4 separate regions of the Homo sapiens genome follow, and all the other regions are linked to region 1. The links come from fine-mapping of genetic effects on gene expression. A gene starts in region 1. Each other region holds a variant in brackets. All regions are shown on one strand. Distances are from middle to middle. Region 1 holds the start of GGACT (gamma-glutamylamine cyclotransferase). Region 2 overlaps PCCA (propionyl-CoA carboxylase subunit alpha). Region 3 overlaps GGACT (gamma-glutamylamine cyclotransferase). Region 4 overlaps PCCA (propionyl-CoA carboxylase subunit alpha).

Evidence for each region.
Region 2: its variant is fine-mapped to the expression of GGACT in whole blood (TOPMed, PIP above 0.99).
Region 3: its variant is fine-mapped to the expression of GGACT in whole blood (INTERVAL, PIP 0.92).
Region 4: its variant is fine-mapped to the expression of GGACT in whole blood (TOPMed, PIP above 0.99).

The regions. Positions count from the first base shown.
Region 1 is chr13:100,584,117-100,592,222 of GRCh38, reverse strand. It overlaps GGACT (gamma-glutamylamine cyclotransferase), which reads left to right and starts at 3,434. Exons shown (of 3, transcript NM_001195087.2): 1 at 3,434-3,482. RefSeq lists a silencer at 3,282-3,801.
Region 2 is chr13:100,496,693-100,504,798 of GRCh38, reverse strand. All of the region lies in intron 21 of PCCA (propionyl-CoA carboxylase subunit alpha), which reads right to left. Among named protein-coding and RNA genes, the nearest start is that of PCCA-AS1, 20 kb to the right of the region's middle. RefSeq lists an enhancer at 1,669-2,306. The variant A/T (reference allele first, on the strand shown) is at 3,572.
Region 3 is chr13:100,561,131-100,569,236 of GRCh38, reverse strand. The region is part of intron 2 of GGACT (gamma-glutamylamine cyclotransferase); the gene reads left to right. Among named protein-coding and RNA genes, the nearest start is that of GGACT, 24 kb to the left of the region's middle. The variant C/G (reference allele first, on the strand shown) is at 3,142.
Region 4 is chr13:100,521,332-100,529,437 of GRCh38, reverse strand. It overlaps PCCA (propionyl-CoA carboxylase subunit alpha), which reads right to left. Exons shown (of 24, transcript NM_000282.4): 23 at 1,686-1,763. Among named protein-coding and RNA genes, the nearest start is that of PCCA-AS1, 44 kb to the right of the region's middle. RefSeq lists an enhancer at 3,804-4,326. The variant T/C (reference allele first, on the strand shown) is at 3,226.

The DNA.
Region 1 (8,106 bases):
TAATTTGGTAATATTTCAGTAGATTTTATGGTGTTATTCAGTTGGACTTCAAGCTCCTTATATAGCCCTCCTTTTGGTTGTTTACCTCACATTATAGCTAGAGTTTCAAGAGACTTAGGGGATATCTTCCCCTCTATTGGACGTTACTTGCAATGCTGGAGGCACGCAGGAGAGAAACACCCAGAGGAGGCTGGCCTCGTTTGCATAATATTAAGTAGTAATGTATTTAGTTAAATAGGAATATAAATTAGACATCTATTACACCCAGGTCTGGAAAACAGAGCTCAGCAATTACCTGCTCTGATTTAGGCAAATACAAATGCCAAACTGGTTAATTCTGGTTAAAGACAATTTGCTGGTTTAAATCCTTGTAGTTGATAAGGAAAATGTTTGCTGAGCTTTGAACAGGTGCTGATATGATTTGGGTCTGTGTCCCCACCTGAATCTCACGCTGAATTGTAATCCCGGGTGTCAGGGAAGGGCCTGGTGGGAAGTGATTGAATCATGGGGGCAGATTTCCCCCTGGCTGTTCTCGTGATAGTGAGTGAGATCTCACAAGATCTGGCTGTTTAAAACTCTGTGGCACCTCCTCCTTTGCTCTCTCTTTCTCCTTCTCTGGCTGTTTAAGAATTTAAGATGTGACTCTTTCCTCTTCACCTTCTGCCATAATCGTAAGTTTCCTGAGGCTTCCCCAGCCATGCTTCCTGTACAGCCTGTGGAACTGTGAGTCAAACCTCTTTTCTTTATAAATTACCAAGTCTCAGGTAGCTCTTTATAGCAATGCAAGAACAGACTAATACAGGTGCATAGTGATTTGCTGACTGCATGACCCTAAGCCTAGAGGATGTGAGAGTTTGTAAAAAGGCAGAGCAAAGGGGCCAGAATGAGCAGCTGAACCCTTTGCAGTGAATGACTCAATTGTACCATTTGGACACAACCAAACAGACTTGGTGAGTCGACCCAGTTCCTAAAAGCTACCAGAGCAGTTGGCTTGCCAAGGGATCCTGAATAACTGACCAACCCTAAACTGACAAGCCCGGGACCTGCTTAGATTGACCAGTCTATTTCCTTGAGGCACTTTGTGAGTTTTATCTCTATGAGACCCAAGCTTTGCTGTGGAGCTGTCTTCACAGTGACAGCACCCTGGAGTGTGTCTATACACAAGAAAATCTTCACTTAGCACCCTCTGTCCACCTGCAGAATCTTAGACCCTACTCCTGGCTAGCTGAACCAGAATCTACATTTTAAAACAAGACCCTGGGTTGACTGACGTGCACGTTAAAGTTTGAGAAGCACCGAGGTACATCCTCAAAAGGCGATGGTTTTCAAACTTGAACTGGCATCACTCATTAGAATGTCCATCTCTGGGCCCCACCCCCAGACTTGCTGACACTGAGTTGACCCCCAGAGTCAGGACACCTCCAGTGTGGCTGGAGATTGTGCATTTCTAAATACCCAGGTGCTGCCAGTGCTGCTGGACTGGGACCACATTTCAAAAACTGCTCTTCAAACTGTGAGTTGTTTTCCAAGAAGTTAAACTGAAGGCTTCATCCCACAGAGCCTATTCTATGTTAGATTGGGCTTCCCCAGCCTTATCTGGGATGCAACTTAACACTTGTCTTGGCTAGGCACTGTGGCTCATACCTGTAATCCCATCGCTTTGGGAGGCCAAGGCGGGTGGATCGCCTGAGCTCAGGAGTTCAAGACCACCCTGGGCAACATGGTGAAATCCTGTCTCTACCAAAAAATACAAGAAACTAGCCGGGCGTGATGGTGGGTGCCTGAGGTCCCAGCTACTCAGAAGGCTGAGGTGGGAGGATCACTCGAGCCTGGGAAACAGGGGTTGCAATGAGCCAATAACATGCTACTGTACTCCAACCTAGGTGACAGAGTGAGAACCCATCTCAAAACAAACAAAAAATTCGTCTAGTCTGCGTCATCTTTAATTTTCCTTTATCAGAAGAATTATTTATCTATTTGTCTCACTTTCCTTTGCTGACATGATTTTCCCCCCTCAAAAAAGAGATGAAAGTGGAATCATTCTTTCGCTTCAAAAAGTTAAGAATTACTGCTGTCTTTAAAAATATTAATATGAGGCCGGGCGCGGTGGCTCACGCCTGTAATCCCAGCACTTTGGGAGGCCGAGGCAGGCGGATCACGAGGTCAGGAGATCGAGACCATCCTGGCTAAAATGGTGAAACCCCGTCTCTACTAAACATACAAAAAATTAGCCGGGCGTAGTGGCGGGCGCCTGTAGTCCCAGCTACTTGGGAGGCTGAGGCAGGAGAATGGCGTGAACCCGGGAGGCGGAGCTTGCAGTGAACCAGATCCCGCCACTGCACTCCAGCCTAGGCGACAGAGCGAGACTCCGTCTCAAAAAAAAAAAAAAAAAAAAAAAAAATATTAATATGAGCTAGACAAGGTTTTTTAATACATTTCAATTTAATTATGAAGTGTCCAAGACAAGAAAAAACTGTGAAAACCAACGACTTATGTACCTGATGGTTTAGATTTCTTTTGGAATTGTACATCTGTTCAAAATACAATTACATCTGCATTGTTGGAAACGTTTGGATAAAAACCAGTTTATATAAAGGTTTCAATCAGTCCACATCCATGAGAAAGTAGAAAGGGCAGGAAATGATTAAGGGGGATTATTGCTAATCTGATAAACACAGATTTGTGTCTTTCGGAGAGACAGAAGTGTCACTCTCTCCATAGCTGTACCATTCCTACCACCTGGCCCCCAAGTGGCATTGCTTTAACCCATTGTCTCTAGGGAAAATGTTCTCTTTCGATTTTGGTTCTCAGTCCTATAATTTCTGGGGCTTAAATTAGTCCTGGAGCTAGGGAAGAGGTGATGTCATCCTTCCATTGTCTCCTTCGGCCACAGTTTCATTTTAAGAGTATTGGTAAGTAAGTGGGCAGTGTGACTAGATGGCGGTCTGGACTCGGTATCAGGGCTGTGTGCATGCCCAGCTGGGGGGCCTTGGTGGTGTGTGATGTGATAGATACACACATGGTTGGCATCCCCAAGTGTGTCTGCGCTTGGGTTCATTTGTGTGTGCATGTGTGTCCATTTGATGTGGCGTGTCCCCAAGCTTGTGGAGTCGTCTGTGAGTCTGTTTTGTGGGGTGTGGCCCAGGTGTGTCAGGGTCCACCATGCAGTCGGGGCTTGAGCCTGAGTGCCCAGGTGTGTTAGGGTGGATGTGACTTCTGTGGGGCGTCCCCAGGTGTGTGAAGCTGGTTGCGCTGTGTCTGCGGCGGGGCGTCTCCGGCGGGCATCGGCGTGGGTGGGTCTGGCTGTTAGGCGGCCAGTTGTGCGAGCGGCCACGTGTGTGCGAGGGCGCCGCAGGGGCTGGCGGGCCTCGCGTTCCGCCTGCAGGGGGCGCCGCCGGGGGCGGCCTGGGAGCAGAGGCGCGGGCCCGGCCCTGCATTTCCGCCCTGGCCCTGCCCTCCCCGACAGCCCCGGCTGCCGGCAGGTGAGGCGCTGAGCCCGGGCGGGGGTCGGGGCTGCGCCTGCTCCGCCCCCCAGGCGGGGTGTCCTGGCGCCCGCGGGAACCTGGGGCGTCGCTCCCTGCGCGGCGTCCGGGTCGAGGCCGCAGCACTCGGCGTCCCCGCGGGTGAGGGAGGAGGCCTGGGGCGCCGCCGGCCGGCGAGGCCAGCCGGAGGGAGGGGACGGTGGACCCCGAAACGCGTCCTCCATTGCCCCGCGCGGGGGCCACGGGCGCGATTGCCAGAACGGGCAGAGGGCGGTAAAAGCCAGGAACCGCCTCACGCACGGGCGCTGCTTCCCTGTAAAGGAAGCGTGACAGCCCACACGCTGGCTTTCAGAGGACCTCAGCTGAACCGGGCTAACACTTCTCAGAAATTGTTTTTCATTTTAAAGATTTCCTGTTTGTAAGGAGACTAGAAGCTGCAAAAGAAATCTAAAAACGTCTCCTGGCACTTGTGAATTTCTGATCTAAGGTTTCTTTGGAGCCATTAGTGAAACTTCTGAAATTTTGAAGAAATTTACTGCCTTGATTATTAATTATGGTTATCATTGCTGTTTTACTCTGTGGGCCAAGGACAACGCCACAAGCTCAAAAGCAGACTTAAGTGTTTTTTGAACACAGCTTCTTAACTCCACGCTTAGTTGATTTAATATTTAAGTGATAAGAAAATGCAGTCGATTTCTGGCCCTTTTTATTGTTTGGGATGAAGTCTTGCCCTGTTGCCCAGGCTGGAGTGCAGTGGCGCGATCTCGGCTCACTGCAACCTCTGCCTTCCGGGTTCAAGCGATTCTCCTGCCTCAGTCTCCCGGGTAGCTGGGATTACAGGCGCCTGCTATCACGCCCAGCTTATTTTTGTGTTTTTAGTAGAGACAGGGTTTCACCATGTTGGCCAGGCTGGTCTCGAACTCCTGACCCCGTGATCCGCCCGCCTTGGCCTCCCAAAATGTTGGGATTACAGGCATGAGCCACTGCACCCGGGATTTGTGGCCTTTTTTAAAAGCAAGTTATTCGTTTTGCTAAATGTCCCAGGAGAAATGATTAATGAAAAACTAAAGGTGACCTATTTAAAGTGTAGGTCTTACACACACGTAGGTGTCCTTATGTACATTTACCTGTAAGTGAAGACTTTTCCCTGGCCTCATTCAATTTATTGAAATGCTCAGATGAAGAGCACCTGCAGTTTGCCCGTATTTTCCCAAAATGCCTTGTTTTCCTGAAACTATTCCCAGAAGAAGCCAGACTTCCCTGAATAAGCAGACCACTGTGTTCTAGCAGAGATTCGTATTGTAAAAGCTGAGTTTGCAAAGTTAAATTAATTTCTAATTGGTGGATTTTTGTACGGAAATACTTTGGGCTAGTTGATTTTACTAACCAGGCCCTAACTACTACTAGTTAGGAGAGGGTGGTTGTTTGTGGTGATCTGGATAGTAGGTAGCAGTAAGCAGAATAGAAGAGGGATTTTAAAATGATCTGTTCATTTCTCTCTTTACTAGTAAGATTTCCAATCTGTGTCCATTCTTGAAGTGAAGTCATTGGGAGGCTTTGTATCCACCTCGAGCCAGGGCCCTTACCAGTGATTAGGACACCAGCAGGCTGGTGTGGAAGTGTAGTGCAGCCATGCTTGAAGAGGGGACAGGACCCAAGGAAAGGTGACAGTAAGAGGACAGAAACACGAAATATTCGCAGCCCTCTTTAGAACATCCTCCATCTAGGCAAACTCTATTAGGAATTTTAAGAGTTCTCAATTAAACATGACTGCCCAGTGTCCTGCTGAACAGGAATTCATTCTTCAGTTGAAGCTCTATTGTCAGTAAAACTACTCAGGATAAGGCAGCCGTGTTTAGGCCGTGAGGACCTGCCCCTGGACTGCGGAGCTTGCTCCGTAAAAGGCATCGTGATACCCCCTTAAATGGATTTACAGAAAAGACTTAGCTATTGGAAGTCTCTGGGATTGTATGGCATCATGAGGTAACAGACCTGGTAAATAGCTAGAACGTAGCGAAGAATGAAACCAGAGGCAGTGTGCTGTTGGAACTGAGAGGTGAGTGCTCACTGGAGGGCCAGGAGAAGGTCACAGTTGGGGAGACCTTAAGCAGAGAACAGATTTTTATAGGCACAGGAATGGAAAGGGTGGCCAACACCATGAGCAAAAATAAGAAGCTGAAAATGACAGTGTGTTCAGACAAAGGTGAACAACTGGCGTGCTGAGGCTGGACTCCGCGAGAGGAGGGGTGGGGTCGGGGGTGGGGGTGCCTGGAAAGCAAGGCTCTCCAGTGATAACCTCTACATTTTGATCAAGGTTCTGATTTTGTTTGTTTGTTTGTTTTGCTTATTGGGAAAATTTTAAGCAAACATAAAAGCCCAGCAAAGTAGAATGAATTTCCATATATCCATCAAATGGACTTCACAAGTCTTGTTTGGCCATATCCACTTCATCTTTTTTTTTCTTTTTTTGGTTGTGGCTGAAGCAGTTTAAAGCAGTTTATTCCAGACAACATAACACTTCACCCCTAAATTGTTCAGTATGTTTCTCCAGAGAAAGGGCATTTGCTTGTGTAACCATAATACAATTATCACCTCCTGATGAAATTGACAATAATTCCTTAACATTTTCTAAAACCTAGTCCATGATCAGATTTCCCTGATCACCTCAAAAATGAACTTATTTTTACTGTTGGTTTGTTTGAATCCACATCCAGACAAGAATTTGTTGACTGTTACCTTTTTATTTTATTTTATTTTTTGAGACAGGAACCAGCTCTGCTGAGATCATGGCTCACTGTAACCTCGAACTCCTGGATTCAAGCCATCCTCCCACCTCAGCCTCCTGAGTAGTTGGGATTACAGGCATGTGCCACAATGCCCAGCTATTTTTTTTTTTTTTTTTTTTTTTTTTTTTTTTTGGTGGAGACAGGTATTGCCCAGGCTGGTCTTTTTTTTTTTTTTCCTTCCTGAGACGGAGTCTCACTCACTCTTGTCACCCAGGCTGGAGTGCAGTGGCACAATCTTGGCTCACTGCAACCTCCGCCTCCTGGGTTCAAGTGATTCTCATGCCTCAGCCTCCCAAGTAGCTGGGACTACAGGCGCATGCCACCACACCCAACTAATTTTTGTATTTTTAGTAGAGACGGGGTTTCACCATGTTGGCCACACTGGTCTGGAGCTCCTGAACTCAAGTGATCCACCTGCCTCTGCCTCCCAAAGTGCTGCGATTACAGCCGTGAGCCACCGTGCTCAGCTGTTGCCCCTTTCAATCTAGGGCAGGGGTGGCAGATGTCTCTGTGAAGAGCCAGATACCAGCTCTTTCAGGCTTTGCAGGCCCTATGGTCTCTGCCACAACTGCTCAGCTCTGCCATCGTCATGCAGAAGTAGCCAGGGGTGATAGTAAATGGATAAGCATGGCTGTGTTCCAATAATACTTAATTTCCAAAGCTTTTGTGTTTTAAAATCCACCCACAGGCTGGACTTACCCGCAGGCTGTGGTTTGCCGACCCAAGTCTAGAGCAGCCTTGGCGGGTTTCCTCAATACCAATGACTGTCGATGTTACTTGGTTGATTGCCTGTAGGGTGCCTCACACTCTGGATCTGTTGGGCTGCTTTTCGTGGAGTGTGGTTTGGCTTGCTTCTCTATCCCCTATATTTCCTGTAAACTAGAAGTTAGATCTAGAGGCTTAATTAGGTTCATGCTTGCCATTTTTGGCAAGTCTACTTCAGAAGTGGTTTGACTTTTTTTAAATCTAAATTTATCTGACTTTAAAGACTTGGAAACCCTCATCAAAGAATCAAAGAAGCTCAACATTACCAAAATAGGAGCTCAGCATTACTAAAATTGGCTTTGCCTGATGGCTGAGAAGACATTTTTTCTTTTTCTTTTTACTTTTCTTATTTGTAGGAGAGTATATAGAGCTGTTATTTCTCAAATAGTTCTTTTTTGATAGTTAATTTTTGTGGGTACCTAGTAATAGGTGTATATGAGATACAATGTGTAATAATAAACCCTCATTACAAGGTATATGAGATACAATGTGTAATAATCACATCAGGGTAAATGGGGTATCCATCACCTCAAGCATTTATCTTTTGTGTTACAATCTAACGATACTCTTAGTTATTTTTAAATGTATAGTTACATTATTACTGACTATAGTCACCCTGTTGTGCTATCAAATACTAGATCTTATTCCTGCTTTCTGTGTTTTTGTACCCATTAACCATCTCTGCTTTCCCCCAACCCCCCTACTACCCTTCCTAGCCTCTGGTAACCATCATTCTGATCTCTATCTCAGTCAGTTCAATTGTTTTAATTTTTGGCTCCCACAAATGAGTAAGAACATGCAAAGTTTGTCTTTCTGTGTCTGGGTTATTTCACGTCACATAACGACCTCCGGCTGCACCATATTGTTGCAAATGACAGGATCTCCTTTTTAATGGCTGAATAGTACTTCATTGTGTATATGTACCACATTTTGTCAAGGAGGTCTTGAGAACTTTGAACCCTTTCTCTAGGTCACTGGGAAGGTTCCTCTATTCAAGGCATTCTTTGGCCCCTCAAGCATGTGGACTGCATTTTTGCACTGAATATAAGTATATTCCTTCCCTGGGTATGTGC
Region 2 (8,106 bases), 87 kb after region 1:
ACCACACCCAGCTATTTTGTATTTTTAGTAGAGATGGGGTTTCACCATGTTAGCCAGGGTGATCTCAATCTCTTGACCTCTTGATCTGCCCACCTCAGCCTCCCAAAGTGCTGGGATTACAGGTGTGAGCCACGGTGCCCGGCCAGTAAGTGAATTCTTGTATGAAGAAGCCTCAGAACACAGAAATGTCATTAAGTATTTAATAGCCATCATTACCACTAATTGCTGTCATTAAAACATGTCCACAGATGGACAGAAATCTTGGGCACAGTCACTGAGAAGACACTGGAGGCTGTCTGGGTGGGTCTCGAATTCAACACACAGGGATCTAAATCGCTCTCACGCCCGCGTACACGCTCTCAGATGCACAACAGCCATGCACCTCAACTCTTCACGCTGACTCTCTCCACTGGAAGTGTCCTCTGATCATATTCTTAGCCTAAAAATTTGGCCTTCTATTCAATTCTCATATGAACATTCTCCCGACTTGGAACGTTGTCCTATCTATGTGGATCTGACTATAATCTTTCCCCAGACTTTAAGACTATGTTGCTAATTTCTCATGGCAGAAGAATTCATATTTGAGGAACCTGAGATTTTATAAGAAAATGAGAATCAGGGGACTGAGCAAGTGAAATTTGACAGCTCTTATAAAACAATGTATTTTATGGAGTTAAAAATAGTTATAGGCTTATTGTAACAAGTCCAATGGTAAAGAGGTGTGTAAAACAATTTACTAATCCACCCTCTCACATCTAATCCCACTCCCCTTCGGTAATGTCAATTTTTATTGTATATCTTTTACTCACATGAATCTATCAAAATATAAACATATATGTATACTACAAATACATTTAGCCTGGGTAAAATGAAACACTGAAGACTGCTTATTATTGAGGATCTCACTCTGTCACTCAGGCTGGAGTGCAGTAGTGTGATCACAGCTCACTGCAGCCTCAACCTCCTCAGCCCATGTGATCCTCCCACCTCAGTCTCCCAAGTAGCTGAGACCATAGGCACATGCCACCATGCCCGGCTAATTTTTTTTTAAATTTTTTGTAAAGACAGAGTTTTGCCATGTTGCCCAGGCTGGTCTCGAACTACTAGGCTCAAGCGATCCATGCCCCTCAGCCTCCCAAAGTGTTGGGATTACAGGCATAAGCCACTGTGCCCAGCCCACAGCTCATTTAAAGAGGGAGAGATTTATGATCTTTGGCCATTCAACATCCTTGACTCACTGTAGACTTTTAAACACAAGATGTTTAATACAGAAAAAACTTTATTTTATTATAATTTCTTTTTTGGGGGGGGATGGAGTTTCGCTCTTGTTGCCCAGGCTGGAGTGCAATGGCGCAACCTCGGCTCACCACAACCTCCACCTCCTGGGTTCAAGTGATTCTCCTGCCTCAGCCTCCCGAGTAGCTGGGATTACAGGCACGCGCCACCACACCCAACTAATTTTGTATTTTTAGTAGAGACAGGGTTTCTCCATGTTGGTCAGGCTGGTCTTGAACTCCCGACCTCAGGTGATCCACCCACCTCGGCCTCCCAAAGTGTTGGGATTACAGGCGTGAGCCACTGCGCCCGGCCAGAAAGAACTTCAGGTAAATTATTTTTCCTCGTACCTGCTTAGCTAGCTTATCTTAAGCATGGCTGTGCTGAGCCTCTGTCAACAGGCAGCCTCTGCCCAGGACAACTCCAGACAACTCCCACTGGACAACTCCAGTGGGAGAGTATCCTCCACTGGCCCTGCCAGTCTCTCTTACCCACGATCCAGCCTCCCCTCCTCCCCAGGAATCAGAAGGTCCAGCTGTAAATACAGCTTTAACGCCCTAGGTCTGCGTCAGCCTCAGCTTCCACAACCTTTCCCAACGCTGCACTGAAAATTCCTGTCCTCTGCCGTCTGCTCTGCCTCCCTCTTCTTTTCTCAACTTTGTTTCCTCTTTTTCTAATTAACCCCAACAGCGTGACTTGTTATCTGCATGTAACAGACAACTCTGCCTGGCTGCAGTGACTCCACTAGGATTTTCCCTAAATCCCTGTCCTTTACTCCTAAGAGTCTGTCTCATATCCTACCATTCACACCAATCAACAGAAAGCTCTCTTAACTTTGTAAATTGTAACCACTCAGTCATTTTCAAGTCTAGAGGGCCAGAAATGCCAAAAGTAACTGCCAAAAGCTTTAGTCACAGAAGTTAAGGTCGATTCCCTGTGGTCTAATTTGTAAATGATAGCTGTCTAATCAAAAATGAGAAAGGCCTACCTAACCCTCTTACCACTGCAATTCAATAATGCTACACAGTAACTCATGAAATAAGACTAGGAGACATTTCCCTTGCATCTGTATAATCCAGAAACCAGGAATACTGAGTACCAGCCATTCTGTGCCGCTCTGCTCTCCTCTTGGTTAAAAATATACAGTACACACAGCCAGGGTGAGGTGGGATGAGAGGGTGCCCGTTCAGCAGGGACATCTACCCTGGCCTCTACCTTAGTGAAATCTGCCTGGATCAGGGGGCTGGGCCTCTGTTTCACAGGCTTAGAAGCTAGACTTCCACTATACACTCATAATGCATCACTCTGAACGAGATGGATTCACTTTTATCAAGCTCACAAGATACTGATGTGTAAAACATCTTAGGAATTTACAATCAGAAATAGGTTTGTAAAGGGAACTCACACACCTCCTAACTGTAGTGTGAGCACTAAATTATAGTCAGTGGTTCTTTGATAAATACAGAATCAGCAGAAGAGGCACTGGCTGAAGTGCTCTCCACCAAGACAGCATAAGCAGCAGTTCTCAATCACCAAAGCATCAAAACTTGCCTGGAGGGCTAGTAAAACCACAGACCGCTAGGCCCCCCACCTGAGTTTCCAATTCAGGTTTGGGTGCATTTTATTTATTTATTTATTTATTTATTTATTGAGAAGGAGTGTCCCTCTGTTGCCCAGGCTGGAGTGCAGCGGCACGATCTCAGCTCAGCCCAACCTCCGCCACCCGGGTTCAAGTGATTTTCCTGCCTCAGCCTCCCAAGTAGCTGGGATTACAGGTATGCGCCACCATGCCCGGCTAATTTTTTTGTATTTTTAGTAGAGACGGGGTTTCACTATGTTGGCCAGGCTGGCCTCAAACTCCTGACCTCGTGAGCCACCCGCCTCGGCCTCCCAAAGTGCTGGGATTACAGGCGTGAGCTGCCACACTGGGCCTGGGGTCTGCATTTCTAGTGAGTTCCCAGGAGACGCTGAAGCTGCTGGTCTGAGGACCACACTGTGGGTGAACAGAAGGCCTTCTCCATTATGGAATGGCCTTTCCCAGGGAATTTAGCTCATGTCCATGAGAAGGCTTTCTTCTCCTAGACTCAGCTGACAATGCGCTGCTGGAGAAGGCTTTTCTGATAGTAGACAATGGAGACTCAGAAGGGTGACGGGGTGGGAGGAGGGTGGATGATGAGAAATTACTTAATGGGTACCATGTACATTAGTCAGGTGATGAATATCTAAAAGCCTTGACTTCCTCTCTATTCAATCTATGCATGTCACAAATTTACACTTGTACCTCGTAAGTTTACAT[A/T]GATAAAATAATTTCAAAAAGTATGTATGACTCTTGTTCTAGGTAGAAAAATCTCTGAGTGACACATTTTTTCTTTTTTTTAAGAGTCTCACTCTGTTGCTCAGGTTGGAATGCAGTGGCATGATCTTGGCGATCTTGGCTCACTGCAACCTCCGCCTCCCAGGTTCAAGCAATTGTCCTGCCTCAGCCTCCCGAGTAGCTGGGACTACAGGCACCCACCACCACACCCGGCTAATTTTTGTATTTTTAGTAGAAACGGGGTTTCACCATATTGGCCAGGCTGGTCTCAAACTCGTGACCTTGTGATCTACCCGCCTCGGCCTCCCAAAGTGCTGGGATTACAGGCGTGAGCCACTGCGCCCAGCTAAAGAAACATCTTTAAAGTATCTTTTGCATAAATTCAGTCTTGCTTATTTGATGTCTCAAGATTTGGGGAGTGTTTTGGTGTCTACAGTTACTACCCCATTAATTTTTCTCTGGCCTCAATGTTGCTGTCCCTAAATTGGATCAAATATATTCTTAGAAGGGTGAGATTAGGAAAGGAACTCGTTAATATAGACTGAAGGCCTCTCTAGTCTGTAAGTAACCTTAATATTCTGAGACTGGAGAATACCACCGTGCTCACTATCTTCTGGGAGAGAGGTTCTCTTTAAATGTTTACAGATTTCAGATGAGCTGAAACCAGCCTTAACTGCTCAATATTTGGGCAACTGGGGACTGTTCGTTTGATCTTTTGGTTTATTAAAAACTATGGGGAAGCTAACAAGTCTTAGAAAATTTAGCAAGGTAACTTTAAATGGAATGCACATGTTATTATTACATGAACTAATTAGTATAAATTCCTTGAAAAGAAACTTTAATATTAAAACATATATAAATATATCCTTAAGGAGAGTTCTGGTCTCAACAAATAATAACAAAATATAAGCGCCAGACCACCACTGCCCTTGGTCTGGTGTCTGCAAGAGGAAATGACACACTGAAGAGCTGGACTTTCATTTGACTTTCAACCGTACTACAATCTTACTAGAATGTGGAGAGCCTGGTGATTCCATCCATTTTAACACTGATCGCCTCAATCTGAAGACAGTCTCAGGGGAAAATGGACTGAGCCACAATTGTTTAGCTTTTTTCCTGGGTGGTAAGTAAGATTCCATTCTTGCCCAATTTCTTACTTCAATTAGATTCAGAGGTAGAATAGTCTAAAGATAGATTCCAAATACTATCTCTCTCATCTTTAAAAAAAGAAAAAATGAATCTGTTATTCCTTTTCCCCAAACGACAGAAGCATGATTTCATTGTATTTTCCTTCAAAACTGTGGCCAATAAAATGCTAGCACCTCCAAAAAAAGTCTCAAGCAACCTGTGAATTAGAAACACAAGAAATATTTTTTCCTTTGCTTCTCCTATGTTATTTTGAAAACTGTGAAAGAAAAAACCTTTTTAAAATGTCAAATATACTTGTCTTGCTTACATTCAGATGTATGCAAAGTTCACTGAGGCGTAGGTCTTATTTTTGTCACTAGACATAATGGGACAGATGTGCTTCTGCAACAGAGGTACGGATGCAGCATGCAGCAGTCTATCCCAGAAGCTCTGTAAACAAACACTCTTTATCCCAAGGAGGCAGGATATGAAAGGCTGGAACCGCCTTAATAAGACACTACTTGTCCCAACATAAAAGTCTGTCTTGAGGCATCCTACTACAGTCTTGCCTATTACTCTGCTGATTAAAGGAGGTTGACTAGAGCCATGTGGGCTAGAAGGAGTGAGGCCTGGACCAGAAGAAAATAATTGCAAAAGTTTCTCTGTCAAACATTAAAAGTCATCAACATCAGAATCACAAATATTTCACTAATCTCTTACATCCTGCAGATGTGCAGATAAGCCATTTCTCTCTGCCCAACACCTGAATGGAACAATGATTATCTTCCGGGATACAAAACTATCTCCTAGTTTCACCAGTTATGTGAGCGCGGATGCTGACAAAGGAGAAGTCTTATTTTTCAAACGTCTTTTGGGAACAGCAAAGGCTATGAATATTTTAGAACTAGTGAGAGAGTGCTATGCTGAGCCACGGAAGCAAACCCCTTGTGTTCCGTGTGTTGACTGCACACGCCCATAGTTTTGTGGCTTGGTGAAAAGCTTTCACTTGTCACAACTCACGGTTTTCCACAATAACGTGAATTGACATCAATGATTTTGCTTGCAATGCGGGTGGAAGTCTTGTCTTCCACTGCCAAGTTCTCAGAACCAGAGAACCAAATCAATGCCTTGTTAAAAGGTTTTGACAAGGTATGGTGGCAGAATACAAAATTTCTCTCTACCATAAACAAGCATGCTAACAAGACAGAGATGAATCATTAAACTACCTCCACCCCAGGAAATATCACTCCAAAACAGTTCAATAGGGAGGAGTTATTTTAAGCATAAAGAACATGGTTGGTAGTGGAATAAACCTACAAAGACCAGACACATGCTCCAGTGTGGATGAACCTCAGAAGTGTTATACTGAGTGGAAGAAGTCACACGCAAACAGTAGGCTAGGGGTTGCTGGGGGAGGTGGGGGAATAGGGAGTGATCACTTAATGGAAATGGGGTTTCCTTTTGGGGTGATGAATCGTCTTGGAACTGGAGAGAGATGATGGTTGTACAGCGTTGTGAACGTTAATAAATGCACTGAATTGTATGTTTTAACTTAGCTAATGGTTAATTGTGTTATGTGAATTTTAACTCAAGGAGCAAGGAAATCTATTTGGCCATATGAATTTGTAAAGCTTTCATTTGCAGGCTCTTCAGTCACTAATACGGGCGTGTTTCCAACTGATTTGTGGCTTTCCTCTTTCTCTCTCTCTTGTTTTTGGTATGTCTTCTCCAGTAGACAGTACTAACCTCCATGAGAGAGCATAATAGTATCTGGTACATAGAGAAGACATTCAATATTTGTGAATGAAAAAATAAAAAAAAATCGGTAATTTTTTTTTTTTTTTTTGGCTAACCTACACATCTCCAGACAAAAAGAGAGGCAACTGGCGATAACTATGACAACTTCCAATGTTGGGCTGGGTGTGGTGGCTCACGCCTGTAATCTCAGCACTTTGGGAGGCTGAGGTGAGAGGATTACTTTGAGGCCAGAAGTTTGAGACCAGCCTGGGCAATATAGCAAGACCTTGTCTCTACAAAAAAACAGGTTAGCCAGGTGTAGTGGCACATATCTGTAATCCTAGCTACTCATGAGGCTGAGGCAGGAGGATCAACTGAGCCCGGTAGTTCGAAGTTTACAGTAAGTTATGATCCTGCCACTGCACTCCAGCCTGGGTGACAGAGTGAGACCCTGTGTCTAAAAAAAAAGAAAAGTAAAAAAAGAAGGAAAAACTTCCAGTGCTGAAGAATGTGATTCTTCAGGCTAAAATCAAGAGCCCACAAATCTGGCAATTTCTCTTAGGGAGAAATTTACCAGGTCTTGGAAACCTCGCTAAATTCTTTTGAACATTTATTTTTGCCTAGACATCACTGAAATTTAGACCTCAGTTCATAATCCTTTTCTTGCTGACAGCATCACTAATGGTCAGCTGCAAAGGTGACCTCACTGGTAGAAGAACAGAGGAAATGACTTGGCATGAATTTAATCTGAAGACTCTTGCAGAATTGCAGCAGTTTCTTGACAGGAGCCTGGAAAAGTCCTGGCAGCTGTGATAGTATCTGCTACCCCAAGCCTTGGTAAGTCAGTACTTACTGCCACTAAAATTAAAAAAAAAAAAAAAAATTAAATTGGCTGGGTGTCAAAGAGGCTACACTGCTTTACCATTCCACAACTTACACTTCTCATTCAAGCCAAAGAATAGTAGGCTTCTCAGATGCATACTTCAAAGCCAAATTCGGTGACTTTTTAGTTTTATTTGCACAACTTGTTCATATTTTCATTTTTCACTAATTTTCACCCTCAAAAAAGTGAAAGAAAAAGAAGTGACAATTTTTTGCAAAGATGATTTTTATTTTCTAAGAGAAGGAAACCAATTTCCAGTGCAACCAAATTAACTGTGCATCCTGTGATGAAACTTCTTTGACTATAATCTTCCCCCCAATTCCCCATTTCTCTGCTATTTTTAGCTCTGTGTTAATTAGGGGAGAGAGAACTATGGAATTAAGAGACAAAAGAGACCCTAGAGCTTTTGAGGAACAAGGAGCACAGCCTTTGCTTCCAGCCTCCCGTGAGAACAAGTGCACTTGTACTGCCATACTGGGATTCCGTGACATCTTCCGAACTCCATCCTAGAACTCAAGCTGCCAGCCACTGTAGCGACCTGAACACACCATGAAGTTTCGTGGCTCCATGGCTGTGTTCATGGTATCATGTCCTTCTACAGTATCCTCCCCATTTTCCTTGGCTTGGCTGACTCATAATCATTACCTTAAGTCACAGTTGAGGTGTCATCAACTCCAGAAGCCTTCCCTGAGCTACCAGGTTGGGTGACATCTACTTACTGGCTCCCAAGGCACCCTGGCTGTCTGTTTAACACTCACCATATTATGCT
Region 3 (8,106 bases), 23 kb after region 1:
TGCAGAAGGGAAATTTGGGGTTGAAGCCCCCACACAGAGTCCCCACTGGGGCACTGCCTAGTAGAGCTGTGGGAAAAGGGTCCTTCACACTCCAGAGTGGTGGAACCACCAATGGCTTGCACCGTGCACCTGGAAAAGCAGCAGACACTCAATGCCAGTCTGTGAAGGCAGCTGGGAGGGAGGCTGTACCCTGCAAAGCCATAGGGGCGGAGCTGCCCAAGGCCATGAGAGCCCACCTCTTGCATCAGCATGCCCTGGATGTGAAACATGGAGTCAAAGGAGATCATTTTGGAACTTTAAGATTTAATGATTGCCCTATTGGATTTCAGACTTGCATGGGGCCTGTAGCCCCTTTGTTTTGGCCAATTTATCCCATTTGGAATGGGTTTATTTATCCAATGGCTGTACCTTCATTGTATGTAAGAAGTAACTAACTTGATTTTGATTTTGTGGGCTCATGGGCAGAGGGGACTTGCTTTGTATCAGATGAGACTTTGGACTTCACTTTTGAGCTAACGCTGGAATGAGTTAAGACTGAGGGACTGTTGGGAGGGCATGATTGTGTTTTGAATTGTGAAGACATATGATTTGGGAGGGGCCAGCAGTGGGATGTTATGGTTTGGCTCATCTTAAATTGTAGTTCCAAATCTCATCTTGAATTGTAGTTCCCATAATCCTGACGTGTCATGGGAGGCACCTGGTGGAGATAATTGAATCATGGGGGATGGTTTCTCCTATCCTGTTCTCGTGATAGTGAGTTAGTTCTCACAAAATCTGATGCTTTTATAAGGGGCTTGCCCCTTCACTGGGCACTCATTCTTCTCCTTGATGCCACTGCCTTGTGAAGAAGGACATGTTTGGTTCCCCTTCTGCCATGGTTGTAAGTTTCCTGAGGCCTCCTCAGCTATGCTGAATGTAAATCAATTAAACCTCTTTCTTTTATAAATTACCCAGTCTTGGGTGTCTTTATTAGCAGCATGAGAACAGACTAATACAAGGTCTTCAGTAACCCCTGACAGCAGGATGTTGGCCAATAAATATAAAAAGTGGGATTGGTAGAAATTGCTGATTGCAACCAAATATCCATTCTCTTCTTTCTTAATTACTGGTCCTGTTTTATTCAGTGACCCATGTGCCTAGTTATGGTGAATGAGAGGTAAGCAGAAATGTGTGGGGCTTCCAGGGAGGTTTTGAAAAGGAACCCGATTCAATTGGAAGTAGGGCCCTGGTTCTTCACCTGCCCTGCCTCATGCCACCTCCTTTGAATGTGACATTATGGCTAGAGCTCCACCAGCCTTTTTTGTCTTGTGAGGGAAGATGGTGGTACCTGAGATTAGAAATTAGTTAACACATAGAAGGATCAGTCAGATACATAACTGCATTCAGGCTAGTGGGAGCCAGGTTTCCCAGTGTCAAAGAAGAGAGTTATTAATACAGAAATGCAGAAAACTGGAATGAATCCTGTGATATGCTTTGGGTTGTGTGTGTTTGTGTGAATTCATGGTTTTCAATAAGTGTAGACAGATATAGAAGTGAACATAGATGTAAAGGTGTAAAGAAGTGAATGTAAGTGTGCGTGTGTGTATGTTTATATGTGGATACAGGCATATATTCTGCTGGCGCAGGGGTTGTGGACAGATGCAGCCCAAAGACAGCACACCCTGCACCCAGATCTTGGCATCTAAATACCATTTGCTACAAGAGAACAAGAGCTCCTTGGAGAGAGGGCTGATGCCAGGGCTGGGACAGGGAAAGTCTAAGATGAGCCTGGAACATCTTGAACCAGAAAGCAATGGAATAATGAGGAAGATGGGCCAAGGGGACAGAGAAGCTTGCTGGAATTCACCCCATCTGTCCAAAAGGGGACAATGTAAGCATCAAAAGAAATAATGATAGCATTGAATATAATAGGAAACCATAAGTCCATGTAGATACAAATAAATAAATGAACAAGTGGCAGGTTTGATGGTGAATGAGATGTTGCATGGTTTCAAAATCCCTCTTCATAAAATGCTTAACTATAAAGGGCAAAAGAGTAACTTCTCTGTGGAGAAGCCTGGCAGTCACCACCTTAAGTGATCAGAGTGAATGTCATCAATAATGGAGCAAGTTGAAATCATATGGTGTCTGATAGGAGGCAGTGAGAAGAACATAGCATCATTTCGGAAAGATTCCTGCTCAAGATATACCATCCGAATCTAATCAGGAGACAGCATCAGACAAAACCAAATTCAGGGACATTCAACCAAATCAATGGCCTGCAATCTTTAAAGGATCGTGAATGCCAAAGACAGGCAGGAATTGTTCCAGATGGAAGGAGGCTAAAGGACATAGCTACATGCAATTGGGATTGTGCACTGGGCCCTTTTGCTGTAAAGCACGTTATCAGGACAGTTGGAAAAAGTTCAAACTGTCTGCGAGAAGGTGGTAAACTTAGTCACAAATGCTGATGCCCTGATGTCACAGGTTGTAGTGTAGTGAGATCAGATGTCTTTGTGGGAAACAGACATGACTGTGTTCAGGGATAAAGGGCATCAGGTTGGCAACTAACCAGTGGTTTACTCCCTGAGCAGACACTTCTTAAATACCTACCCACCCAGTTACCAGGGCTGAGAGCCGAGGAGCATGAGTTGCTGGTGCCCGGGCCCCCAGGGATCTGGTAAAGGGGACCTCGGCAGCCGCAAGGCCAGGGGCAAAGGGCAGCAGTGTCCCAGGGTCAGTTCTGCCTCTAGGGCTCACGGTGAGAGACATGGTACCAGAAGGATGGTGTTTGAAGTAACCTGGAAGCACAAGGAGGATTTTGCCAGGCAGAGTGCTGAGGAGTGAAGAGTGTGAAGGGCCTGAAAGGCAGTAGCAACCGAGAAAGCAAAGAAAGTACCACAGGCAGTGTGAGGCATGGCTGAGCGGCAACTGGCCTTTGTGAGCACGTGAAGACATTTGGATTGGCCCTCTGGACTTATCCACTGCTGAGGAACAAATCACCCCCAAAATTAGTGACTGAAAACAACAAAAATTATCCCACAGTTTCTGTGGCTCAGGATCTAAGAGTGGCTTAGCTGTGTGATTCTGACTTGGGTCTGTCACAGGCTGCACTCAGGTGCTGGCTGCACTGTGGCCTTCTCCAGGCTTGACTTGGGGAGA[C/G]CTGGAGCTCACTTCCCTGACAGCTGGCATGCCTTGGTCCTTTCTGACTGTTGGTGGAGACCTCACTTCTTCTCTACGTGGCATCTCCATGGAAATGCTCATAGCATGGCAGCTGGCTTCCTTCACAGTAGGGGATCTGAGAGCGGCAGAGAGCTCCCAGGACAGAAGCCGCAGTCTTTTTATAACTGAATCCCATCACTTCCTCTGGATTGTGTTTGTTGGCTGTCAGTCACTAAACCCATGCTTGGAGGGGCAGGAATCACACAGGGACAGGGATGCCAGGCATGGGCTTGGTGGGTGCCATGTGAGAGTCTGCTTGCCACACAGAAGTCCCCACAGCTGGACAGGCAGGGGCACATCCAGGCATGCATGTTGGAGGTATCACTCTAGCTCTGAGGGGGAGCAGCAGTGAAACTATTTGGGAGAGGATCACAGAGGACAGAATTGAGTGGGGAAGAAGAAATGGGCGTCATCATCAACGTAAAACACTGCTCAAGCAGCTGGGGAGGAAAGGGGGGTTAACCTGAGTGGTTAGAAACCAGCTTCTGCAGAGATGCTTTTGCAGAATCCTTTTGCTGTGAAAGCTACAAGGCAGCGACCTCGTTTCAAACACCTGGTGTCACCAGCACCACGTTTTAAAGTTGTGAAATATCAGGGCTGTTATTTTTTCAGTTACGTCTCGTAAGCACTACTTTGCCTTGACTGTCAGGAGTCAGATGTGCAAATGAAAGCTGTTAACGTTGTCAGGTAGGTTGACTGGACCAGGCTTTAAAATACCAACTAATCCCTTTTGACACTCTGATCTTTCAGCATGATGGTTAAAGGATTGTGTCTTTCCTTTTGAAATCTCCCAGTTTTTTGAACTCTGATCTGAGCACAAATTATTTTAAAGAATGAAGTTTTCCCTGAGATTTTAGATTTTTCATCTCACCAAGCCGCTCTAAACAAGACGAACCGTGAATTCTTAGAGTAGAGCCACATACGCAGTGGGAACAAGGTCAAAGATTGGGAAGGAGGCGGCGGCCATCCCCTGTGAAATACTACAGGGAGAGCATACCAGGTCTGTATCACAACAGGCTTTTCCTTGCATCATTGTGCTTGAAGTTAAAAACAAACATCACAACCTCCCTTTAAACCTGTATGTTCCCTGGGAATAGTAGCGGTCTGGAGTGTGGTTAAAATGCTGTTTCTGGAAGGGTGACCTGGGCCTTGGGCTTCCCTCCCCCATAAAGGCCTGGCTTCTGCTGGGTTCAGGCCCAGCCCCCCCGCCCCCTGCCCGGGGCATAGAGCACTCAGAGCTGGGTACTGCATGATGCTGGTGACACCAGGTGTTGAAAGTAAAAAATGTAATTTATTTCCACACTTTTCAAATGGCCATTCCTGTGGCTTAATATTTGTACTTCGGTCGACCTTGAATCATGAAAGTAAAAACATAATGCTCTTAGAAAATGTGTACTCAGCGTTATTTAGGCAACAGTCTCGTAGTTAAATAGAATGATAAGAAATTTAAAGGGTGAATGTGTACTAAACTTGGAAGGGCTACCTGTTAGTTATTCTAAGGCTTTTTGTATTATCTTCATTTTCACATATTTTGTTTTCCTTTTTGTATAACTTGGATAATTTTTTTAAAAAAGATGTTTATACAAATCTTCAATCTTTAATACTTGGAAAATTAGCTCTTCTGGTTCTTTGAACTTGCCATGTAGGTGAAGGTTGAATGTAAGTCTTTTTTAGGAAAACCTGTGAAAATGAAGGAGTGCCCCTTCTCTGTTTTTAAAGTATACAGAGCATCATGAATCCTCTTTAATCTAAAAGTTAGTAGTTCGAGAGCATCACTGTAAAACAGATAGACCCTTCCCACAATCAATGATTTTCCCAAAGGGTAATCACCAGAATCGCCTGGAGAGCTTTGAAAAATACTGTATTTTATTTGAAATGTAGATTCCTGCCCCCAGCTCCTAAATTACTAAATCCAACTCTCTTGCGAGGGACCTAGAACATCAGCGTTGAAGCTTCACATGCATTTTGGGAACTCAACAGGCGTGGGGAGCCCCAGCCGCAGGTCCAGCCCAGGGTGGCCACAGGCACCGAGACTGCCCCAGGCTTCCCTCCACCCAGTCCCTGTCTTTTGGTTCCCAGTAGCCCACAGGCCCCCAGGGGTTCCAAATCTCTGTTCCCTGCACACGCCTGGGCTCACGCTCCTTGCCTGGAAGGCACCCACCTCCTCCTTTCCCCTCTTTCCAGCATGGTTTTTACCCTCCTCCAGGGGCAGTGCCCAACCTGTTGGGGGCTGCATCCAAGTCACCCACACAAAATTCATTCTTCTCTTTCCTGTTCCTTATGACATGCTGAACAAACCCTTCACTGTGGCATTCCACACATCATATTCTAATAGTAGATTTTATCTGTATCATCTTTTAAAGTTTAGTTTAATTAATTAATGTAAAGACAGGGTCTTAACTGTGTTGCTCAGGCTGGACTCAAACTCCTAGGCTCAAGTGATCCTCCTACCTTGGCCTCCCGAGTAGCCAGGACTACAAGCATGTGCCACCATGCCCAGCTTGGACCACTTTAAAAGATTTATTTACTTTTAATTTAGAGGTTTTTTTATTGAGATAAAATTCACAGAACAGAAAACCATTTAAAAGTGAAGGATTCCATGATTATTTAGTACATAATGTTATGTGATTACAACTTCTGTCTAGTTCCAGAACATTTTCCTCACCCCAAAAGAAAGAAACCTCTTCCACACTAAGCATCCCTCCCATTCTTCCATCCCGAGCCCCTGGCAGCCCCCATCCCCCTACCTGTCACTGTGGCTTTACCCGTGCTGGGTGTTCTGGATCAGTGGATGCATGTCACATGTGCCCCATGTGTCTGGCCCCTCTGAGTGAGGATAATATTTGCAGATTGATCGTGGGGCAGCATCCATCAGTGCATTCATTCACTAGGGTTGCTACAACCAAGTGCCACAGACCGGGTGGCTTCAACAACAGAACTTTCTCACAGTTCTAGTGGTTCAGAAGTCCAAGATCAGGGGCCGGCAGGGTTGGTTTCTCTGGAAGCCTCTGCTTGGCTTGATTTATATAAGTAAGATTGTGTGGAGTCTGCTTGCAATTCAAGGCAAGTAACGCTTTGACTTGCTTTCTTTTTTAGCACATGGCAGTGGGGGCCCAGGCAGGGGAACGGGAGCTCTTTTTTTGGGGTTGTTAGGAGTTTGAACTCTGGAGTCAAGAAACCACCCAAGTTTAAGGCTGTGCCTTTTCTTTTTTCTTTTCTTTTTTTTCTTTTTTTTTTTTTGAGACATTGTCTCGCTGTGTTGCCCAGGCTGGAGTGCAGTCGCGTGATCTCAGCTCACTGCAACCTCCGCCTCCTGGGTTCAAGTGATTCTCGTGCCTCAGCCTCCCAAGTAGCTGGGATTACCGGCATGCACCACCATGCCTGGCTAATTTTTGTATTTTTAGTAGAGACGGGGTTTTACTATGTTGGCTGGGCTGGTCTCAAACTCGTGACCTCAGGTGATCTGCCTGCCTTGGCCTCCCAAAGTGTTGGAATTACAGGCGTGAGCCACCACACCTGGCCTCATGTGCCTCTCTTACCAGTGGTGTGACTTTGGGTGAGTTGCCTGTGCTGTCTGTCCCAGTGTCCTCTGAGTGCTGTGAAGGTGGGTGAAGTATATTTGGTGAATCACAGGTACTGCGTGAGGTGCCAGGCATGATCCTTGCTGGTGCCAGGTTTGAAGAAAATGGTGTTTGTGCAAGGAAAAATTTTTTTTTCTGTGCAAAACTAAGGTGTATTTATGAAAATGGAAATCAAGTCTTAGCCCTTCACCGAGCTTAGTTGTAGAGAATATCTAGGGTAGTTTCTGTCGGGGTCCACACAGGCAGTGGACAGGGGCTTGCCGTTTTATAGAAGAATAAAATTTCACAACTTCTGTGTACTTCCAGTAATTTGAGCTTTAGGTTGAAGCTTGCGAGGTAGGCAAGGTAAGAGTTTCTGTCCCTATTTAGAGGCACCTAAACCCCAGTGAGGCAAAGTGAGTCACCCAGGAGCTGCCTGGAATCTGGTCCTTTCGAACCCACTGTTGGGCACAGCCTCCTCCGGGGCATGCAGACTCTGCCGCATGACCTTTGAGCAGAGTTAATGATTTCCTATTTGTTTTATTTCATTCAAAACAACTGTCATTGCTTGAACCCACCCATGCTGGGCACTTGTATACTCCCAGGGGATCCCACTCCCCCACTCTGGGAAGTGCCAGGGTCTCACTGGACAGAGAAGGAGATCCAGGATGAGAGGTTCAGTCATTTGCCAAGGTCGTGAGCCCCAGCCCCCCACTGAGCAGCACCTCTGCCCCTCCAGGGTCCTGGGTTGGAGGTGTGAAGGGCATCCCGGGCCCTCCCACTGCTGGGTTCTTCTAAGTACAGGAATGTCTGCTGCACACATCTTCTGAAGATAGCATTCTCTTGATCTGAGAAGGGAACCAGTACCACTTGCTGGGTGTTTAGCCAGCACTGCACATTTCAGAATCTCATCCTGGTGTTAATAGCCCCAGGTAAGACAAGGCCACATGTCCAGGAAAGCCTTCTGTGGGAAGACACTGCATTAAGATAGCTCAAAATCGGGGTGAAGAGGCAGGAGGCAGGGCTTACCATCTTCATCCATCAACTATTAACTTTATGATAGAAACCATTTCAGTGTTATTTTTGTTTGCTATGGATCTATACAGAATTGCATTATTTTAATGCTTTATTGAGAAATAATTCACATACCATACAGTTCACCACCATTACCAAGTCAGATGTAAGCAGCTCTCTGGGGCTGTTCCTAATATGGAAGTGTTGCTTATACCAGAAAATGATAACCAAAATGAAATATAACACAACGTTCAAGGAAAGCTTGTAGATAATCATTGGTAAAATAATAGCAATGGAGCTGGAAATACTGAAATGGAGAGGTTAAAATGCC
Region 4 (8,106 bases), 63 kb after region 1:
CTTGAGGTGGGGAAGAGACAGTCATTTGACTTCTTGGAGGCTCTTGCTTGGGCCTGAAAATGAAAAATGGATTAGAACTCATCGGCCACTGCAGATGCTGCTTGGACTGAAAAGGCTGCTTTCCACAATGCTCCTGCCTCCATTTAGCAGCCCTACTAGAGGACGCAGTGTTAGTGATGCAGCGATGACCAGAGTAGAGGATCTGTTTCCTTTGTGAACTTTTTTTCTCTGGGAGGAAAAGTGGCCTCGCAGGTAGGAACCAGGGCCTGCTACTTTGCACGGGGGCTTCGGGCCACTTCTGCTCTTCTTGGCTGGGTTGGAACTGAGAGGCCTGGGGATGGGGTGAGGTGAACAGAATGCACAGGAAGACTCCAACTAGGAGGGCCGAGGGAGACCCAGGCCACGAGGACAGGAAACCTACTACCACATGGCACCATGCCCCTTCAGGGAACTGATGAGGCCAAGGTCATTTCTGCATTAGCACCTCAGACCTGCCGCACAGGGCCCTTGGCATGCGGCGGACACACGTTCTCGGTCCCCCACACCTAGGCCAAGTTCTCATCATGGATGGATGTCGTGATACTAGGGCAGCACAAATGTTAAATCCCAAAGAACAGATAAAATTTTTACATGAACAGAAACCAACATTTTCTTGTTCACTTTTTAAAGAAGTAATTTAGAAAGAATTCCTTAAAAACGCCACAAATCATGTCATTCTACTCTTCACACCATACCAGCACAGTGCAACTGTCCACACCCCTCCAGACCGGCGGGCTGGGCTCAGGAGCCCCTGGCATACACCTGGGCCTCTGTTCTCCCAGCCGGGACCAGGCATGACATCCCCGCTGCCCCTTCTCTGAGAATCCATTTCATTGCCTTCTGCAGTGACAGAGCATGAGACAGAGGTTGTGTGTCTCTCTGATGCAAACCTGGTTATGAACTGATGGATCTCTCTTTGCACCTGATGTCCCCAAGGCATGGCCACATGCAGAACACGGCCAGCCTTGCGCTTCCCATCATGCTCTCCCATGCAGACACTTCCAAACCACAACGGCCCTCACAAAAGGATCATTTACCTACTAACGGCATCTTTTCAGTCTTTTTAGTCACAGGAAGAATAATGAAGTTACTGCTTAAAAGGACTTTTCTATCTTCAAGAAAAAAATACACTTAAGTTTCACTATGAATGAATTTCAGTACTAATATTTTTTTCTCCCTAAATAATTAAGTCCCACATGTACATGGGGTTTTGGCTTCTCTTGATCTGCAACTGAATTGTTCCCTTTGTAGAGAAATTGTCTTGAAGAGTTACATTAATTTTTGCAATTTGTAAAACCATTTGCTGCTGTGTCACCTAAGTCTCAGATAACTAACTGCCTTCAAGACAGATGTAAACATTAAAAATTAAAGACCCCTTAATTTGAAAGAAAGACATTAAGGTGAAGAACAATTGTTCTTTGACTACCTGAACATAAAGCACAGACTTTTTGGAAGCCACGCTCTCTACGAGGCAGGGATGCATCAGGGCAGAATGGCAAAAGCTCCCAATCCTAACGTCCTCCTCTGTAGAAGCGAGGGGGAGAGGGCGCCTCTGTGGCCCTTTCCAGCCAAACCACCCACGATTCAAAGGTGGGCGTTCCTCCATCACAGGGCCGGCCTGGGCTGATGGGGACTTAGGGACTCACCGTGCCAGTTTTCCCAGCTGTCATACTATTCTGCATTTTCATGGCTTCAATCACACAAATTTCTTGACCTTCTGCTACCTGGAAAACAAAAATGGGCAGAAGTTTTAAAAGCATTCTAATTTTGCATTAACACTTAGGAATGAAGCCATTAAGAAATTCTTTGTCAAATGCCCCAAAATATGTGTCTATGAACAGCAGCAACAATCTCTAATGTTTCCTATTCCAAGCTCATCTTTAGGAACAGTAGAGAAAAGCCATTCTCTCTCTCATAAAGTCCTCGTTGGAAAAAAAAAAAATCCCTGACCCTGGAGAAGTGGGGACCCTGGCGGCGGGGCCTACCCTGGGGATCTCTGAGTCTGGCTCTGCCACTAACAGAGGTGTTCGGAAATTGGAATGTTTTCCACTTACCTGAAATGTCCAGAATAGGCAGATCTCTACAGACAGACTCGAGGTTGCCTGGGGTTGAAGAGGGAAGGGGAGTCACTGCTGAAGGGTACAGGGTTTCTTTTGAGAGTGATAAAAATGTTCCAAAATTGATTGTGGTGACAACTACACAACTCTGAATTGACTGAAACCACCGAATCGTACACGTTAAAGGGCTAAATTGTATGTGAATTACATCTCAGTATAGCTGTTACCAAAAAAAAAAAACCACCACCAAATATACATATTTCTGTCTATAGTCCCGGGGAACTGGGAACAGCTCGGCCCTGGCGCCACGAGGACCACTGTCCCATCCTCTGCAAGACACAGCGAGTACCCACAACAAGGCACAAGGCAGCTTCCGGAAAACCCTCCAGACACAGGAATGACTTCCAGAGCTACATGCATTCCATGCTAGGAGACTGGGAGCGCCCACGGGCCTTTGCTCAGACTGCGTTCAGAACTTGCCTTTCATCCTGAGGGGCAGCCAGGCTGAGCTGGGTTAAGCCCACTGGCGTTAAGCGTGAGGCTTCCCTGCAGGAGTGAGCTGCAGCTGAAAACCATGCTGCGCACTCACTTCGCTCTGCCCCGATGGGTCAGCGTCCTGAGCCGGCCAGGTTTTTCTTTGGCCTCCCAGTCTTTGAAACGGGCAAGTCCAGGTTCCTAGGGCAATGGCTATGTGGTGTGGGTGGGTGTCCTGGCATGGGGCTCCTGGCCCCTCACACCACTGTGGCCATATTCGTCCAATGCCTCAGAAGCGCCTAGAGAATGTTCTTTCCTGAAATCCCCAGATGATCTCCAAGTCCCCCTCTGGCCCCCCCGTGTGGCGCAAGCTGTCTTGCTGGCACTCTGGAGCGCCTGAGCCGATGTACTCTTTTCCTCTGCTGTTCAGGTGGTGGGCTGCTTCTTCCTGGCATAGAAATATAGGAAGAGAGACGATGCCAAGGCTTTGGCGCTGGCACGGAGGAGAGACACCGCGCTGAGGAGCTGGGCCTGGAAGCGCTGCCCGCGCTGCCCTTTTTGATTCATTTTCACGTGGCATCTGCATTCCAGGGAGAGCGAAGAATCAGCCTCGAGGGCTGTTTGCAGGGGGATGGGAGGGGCAGCGCAGAGACAA[T/C]GCAGAGGCCCCCATCAGGGGTGTCAGAACAGTCACTCCCTCCAGTTGGCATTTTACAGCCTTTTTTCTCTCTTCAAAGGCAGGCAAAGACCAGGGAATCCAGGAGCAGGTCCAGTTCACTGCAGCACACCTGCCAGCCAGCTCCACACAGGGGACCCTGGAAGCCTGGCCGTGTCCTCTTAGAAGCTGGACTCACTGCGACTGACTCTGACCTAGGACTGAGCACTCAGGCAACAGGACCGGGGACTCTCTGGGAAGTGGATCTGAGACTCAACAGAACATAGTAGAAATGCCATCCAAAAATGAGGAATCCACTCTCCCGCTCTGGGCACTGTTCTCTCTCCAGGTGGAGGAGCTTCCTGGGGACTGCATGCCGGCCTCCCAAACACCCACCCAGCCCTTCCTCTGCAGGCATCTGAGGGCCCAGGACTGGCCAGAGCCCCGTCCCCCCGCCAAGTACATTGGCTTCACATGGGTGGCACAGCCCCTACCCTCTCTGCCAGTAGGTGTGCCCTTCCACCACACGTCCCCTCCCATCCCCTTGCTCAGAATCTGCGGGCCAGACAGGCAGGCAGCTCCTGCTTCTGTTTTACAGGATCTTCAAGTGAGTGCGTTAGCAACTCAACTGCAAATATGAAGAAATGCGGCCTGGGGATTTCCCAAGGTCACGCTAGGGGCAAAGGCCAGCCTGACCTGGCTACAGCTCTACTCTGGGCCCCGCCAGGGCCTGGGAGCAAGTGGGTGGTGGACAGGAGCTTAAGGGGCTCTGCTGTGGCTGCCACTGACCATCTTTCTGGCTGGCTCTGTGCTTCTAATGTGGGTGATTTGCAAAGAGGTAACGCACAGGTAACTGCAAGTGCTGGGTCCCCAGTTGTTCATCAGAAAAAAACCTCGGATTTAGCCCGAGACAATCAGGAAAAGTGGGGAGGCCTGAAATTCAAATAGTCCTTCTGTCTGATTGTGAGAGTCCGGCAATTCAATTCAAAGGACTTTAAAGAAGGCGTGTCCCCACTGAAGCGATCCCATCTTCTGCCCCATCCAAGCACAGCACTGAATCATAGAATTAGATCCTCCCTGCTCCATCCGCCTTTCATTCCTGTTTCCCCTCCCTAGTTCCTCTCGTGGTGTCTACTAGTCTACTTATTTAGCTCTATCCTATCTATCTTATCTGCCTGTCTGTCTGTCTATCTATCTATCTATCTATCTATCTATCTATCTATCTATCTATCCATCTTAGAGACAGAATCTCGGTCTATCCTATCTATCCTATCTAATCTATTTTATCTATCTATCTATCTTATGTAATCTAATCTAATCTATCTAATCTATCTATCTATCTTAGAGACAGAATCTCGGTCTGTTGCCCAGGCTGGAGTGCAGCGGCACAATCTCAGCTCACTGCAACCTCTACCTCCCAAGTTCAAGCGATTCTTCTGCCTCAGCCTCCTGAGTAGCTGGGAATACAGGTGTGCACCACCACGCCCAGCTAATTTTTGTATTTTTAGTACAGATAGGGTATTACCACATTGGCCAGGCTGGTCTCAAACTCCTGACCTCAAGTGATCCGCCCACCTTGGCCTCCCAAAGTGCTGGGGTTACAGATGTGTGCCACTGTGCCCAGCCTAGATTATTTAGCTGTAAATGAAAAACTAAGTAGCACACTTCTCTATTAATTTTGCACCATCTGTTTTGTAGACCGTTTTCCCTAATTCATCCCTAAGAGATGGTGTTTAAAAACTTCCTTCATGCCTTACAAAATAGTGAGATACATCTTGCTCAACAGAAACATGTTCTACCCCAACACACACACACACACACACACACACACACACACACACGAGCTTAATTGAATTTCAACATGTTTCATCCTTTGGAAAAAATTGAGCTGGAGAACCAAATGTACAAACCAAATGTCAAAGAATGCAATGGAAACACAAACTACACCTGCCCCAGTCTGTGGGAAGAGGCTGACACTCGAGGGCGTGCTCCAGGGATGGCTGGGCATTGAGCTGGGCTCCTTCCAACAACAGCAAAATGCCAGCACTCGGCCCTTGGGAGCAGGGGCTCTCACCTTAGGACTTTGGAGCCTTGCTCCCAGCAGCGCTGACTCCTGCAGAATGTGTCGCACACCGTAGAGTACATGTAGGGTACACCAGGGAGCTGGGCAGTGGGCCCAATGGAAGCAACACCTTCCGGATTGCCCAGGGTGGCTGGGAAGCCAAGCATTAATTGGGTGCACAGAGAGGGCCCTCCACCATTCCGTCTCCATCAGACGCCCCCATGTGCGGGGCCCGTTCCTGCAGGATGTGTGCGCACGTTTCTCCAACACTTTTGTGAATCATCTGATAAAGACTTAATGATTGTGACAGGATGTCTCCAATGTTGGGCTTACAAAATGGTCACAAGCCTCACAAGTCTTTTTGATGAACCTAGTGGGCCTGATGTATCTCCCCGCTCCCTGTCTAATTGGTGTAAAGTTTGAAGGCCTGAATCCTGTATCTTTCATCCAGCTTATTGCGTCCTCTCCTTTGACACGAGGTCAAGGTTCACGTTCGCATCCGATTATCAGAGCGGCACTCATTAAGCAGGAGTCGGCCTTGCCCCAAACAAGGCTTGAGAGAAACCTCGGCCCATTTACTCAGCAGATTTTCGCATGTCGTGGGGGCCCGAGTGTCACCCAGCATTGCTCTGTGCTGAAGAGCTGCAGACACCTCCAGCTGATGATGAATTGTGAGTGATGGGAATCAAATCCCGTAAAGCCAGCTGCTTGCCATGGTCGGCAAAATGACTCTAATGGATATAGGCTGCCAATTTTCCAGTTTTACTGGCAAGTCTTCCAAGTGTAATTAAGGGAAGTTATAAATGATATGGAAATCTATCAAGTTCCATTTATTTTCAGAGGACTCTTTCCCCAGAGACTTTTATCTTCAAGCTTATAGTATGCTTTGTTGTGCTAATGATTTAAACCACTTCTTATTTCTGATTAAAGCCCCCAATATCCTTCTACCAAGTTCTCTTCACTCCTTCCACAAAGATTAAAAGACAGAGAACCTTCTCCCGCACATGCCCCCTCTCAGAAAACATGCTAAGACAGGGACACATTTGGCAATGCCGATCATTCAAACTGCAGACTGCCATGACCACGAAGAACGCTCAAAGAAAGTGCAGGAAGAAAAAGAAGAGAACGGGGGAAAAAAGACCACCAAACATAAAAGGAAGCCCCCACAAGCACAGGCTTGAAAGCGGTGCTCAAGACCAGATATTCATCAGAAGGTGGTGTAGCTCACTAATGTTATTTGATTTGGAATAAAAGCATGAAAATGATGGCAAAGGCCTAAAATTGGAGATGTAAAGGATGACTGCACAGTATTCCATTTCTCAATTTCATCCTTCAGAGCCACAAAATGGGGGTGATACAGTGAGTGGATGAGATTTACAGTAACAGCTGTGGTCTCCCACACAAGGGAGGCCCTTCTAATGGGCTGAGGTCTGTTTGGAACAGACGGGGAGTAACAAAACAAGGTTCCCTATTAAGAGTGTGCAGTCGTATTTCTGATAAAGAAAATGACGAGGGAGTCAGGTCTCCTTTAAGACAGCCCATCCTCTTTTTGTTGCCCAAACCCAGGGCTGTTTTAAAGGTGTTATCGTTGAAATAGAGGCCAGGGGACGTTCACAGCATCGAGCCGCCCCGCCCCCCAGGAAGCCCACTCTCTAGCAACTGTAAGGAATGCAGAGGAAACGGTGCCAGTGGCATATGGCTTTCCACTGTGCTAAACATTCATACAAAAGACAGGTTCATCAGTCATTGGAGTATCTGGATAAAAAATTAGCTCCTGATGGATGGTATTTTGAGCTTACCTGCTGCTAGTACATTACCAGAGAAACACAGGTTTTGAAACCCACATGACATTAGAAACTGCAGACCATGAAATACGACACGTGCAGGAGCACACAATGTACGCCAGATTATACAAAATAATAAATAAGCTATTTAAACCCTCTGCCTAAAATTGGGCCCGCTGCAAGGAACCCTGGGTCACTTCTACGCAGGCCAATTAATGCACAGCATCTGCTGTACAGAAGCAGGGCATGAAGCACTTCCGAATGATTTCGGCAATTAAAAGAAAACTGTTTCCTGCCTGTTCAGACCGCAACTGTTTCGATGCAAGAGTGAGCACCAAATCACTGCGTGCAGCTGAAAAATTAAGTCCCCTTTTTGGGGAAGAAGGGTGGGTGGGAGGAAGAATTTTTATGGAAAAAGGAGGCTTCTTTTGTTGTCCTACATTCTGTGTTTTTCTGCCAAATTAGACAGAAGGCTCGGAGGGCTTACCAGCCCGCTGCAGTTTCCACTTCTGCAACGCCGGACCACCGGAAAAACACGGATCAATATCAGCCCTGGTGTCTACGCCACAAAAGTGAAAATCCCACCATTTCATTGTTAAAGGCTGGTCTGCTTGGAACACAGGTGCCTGAATGCCACACATTTTAAGGCCCTTAGATCTGAAGAAAGGTTCAGTTAACAGTCACAAAAAAAGGCATCTCAGATTGAGTGAAAAGGCACTGCCTGCTCGCATCTGATTATATTAATAGCAACTTCCTCTGAGCCGGTAAGATAGGCTGGTAAATATCCCCTGATATTTCCTGAAGAAGAAACGTGTATTCACATCCCAACATCTTCATGTAAAGCGAGACGGGGAGGAGGCCACGGGAGACTGCAGTATTTGAGCAAGGATGGAACCATCATCAAATTACAAAGACAGACCAGGCGGGCAGGAGACGCCGCCCAGCCCTTTCTCCGGCTGAAGACTCCTTTAATGGCCCATGCACGAGCGGCCTCACTCTGGAGGGCGCGGGAACCCAGGGGCCACCCGTCCAGCCCCG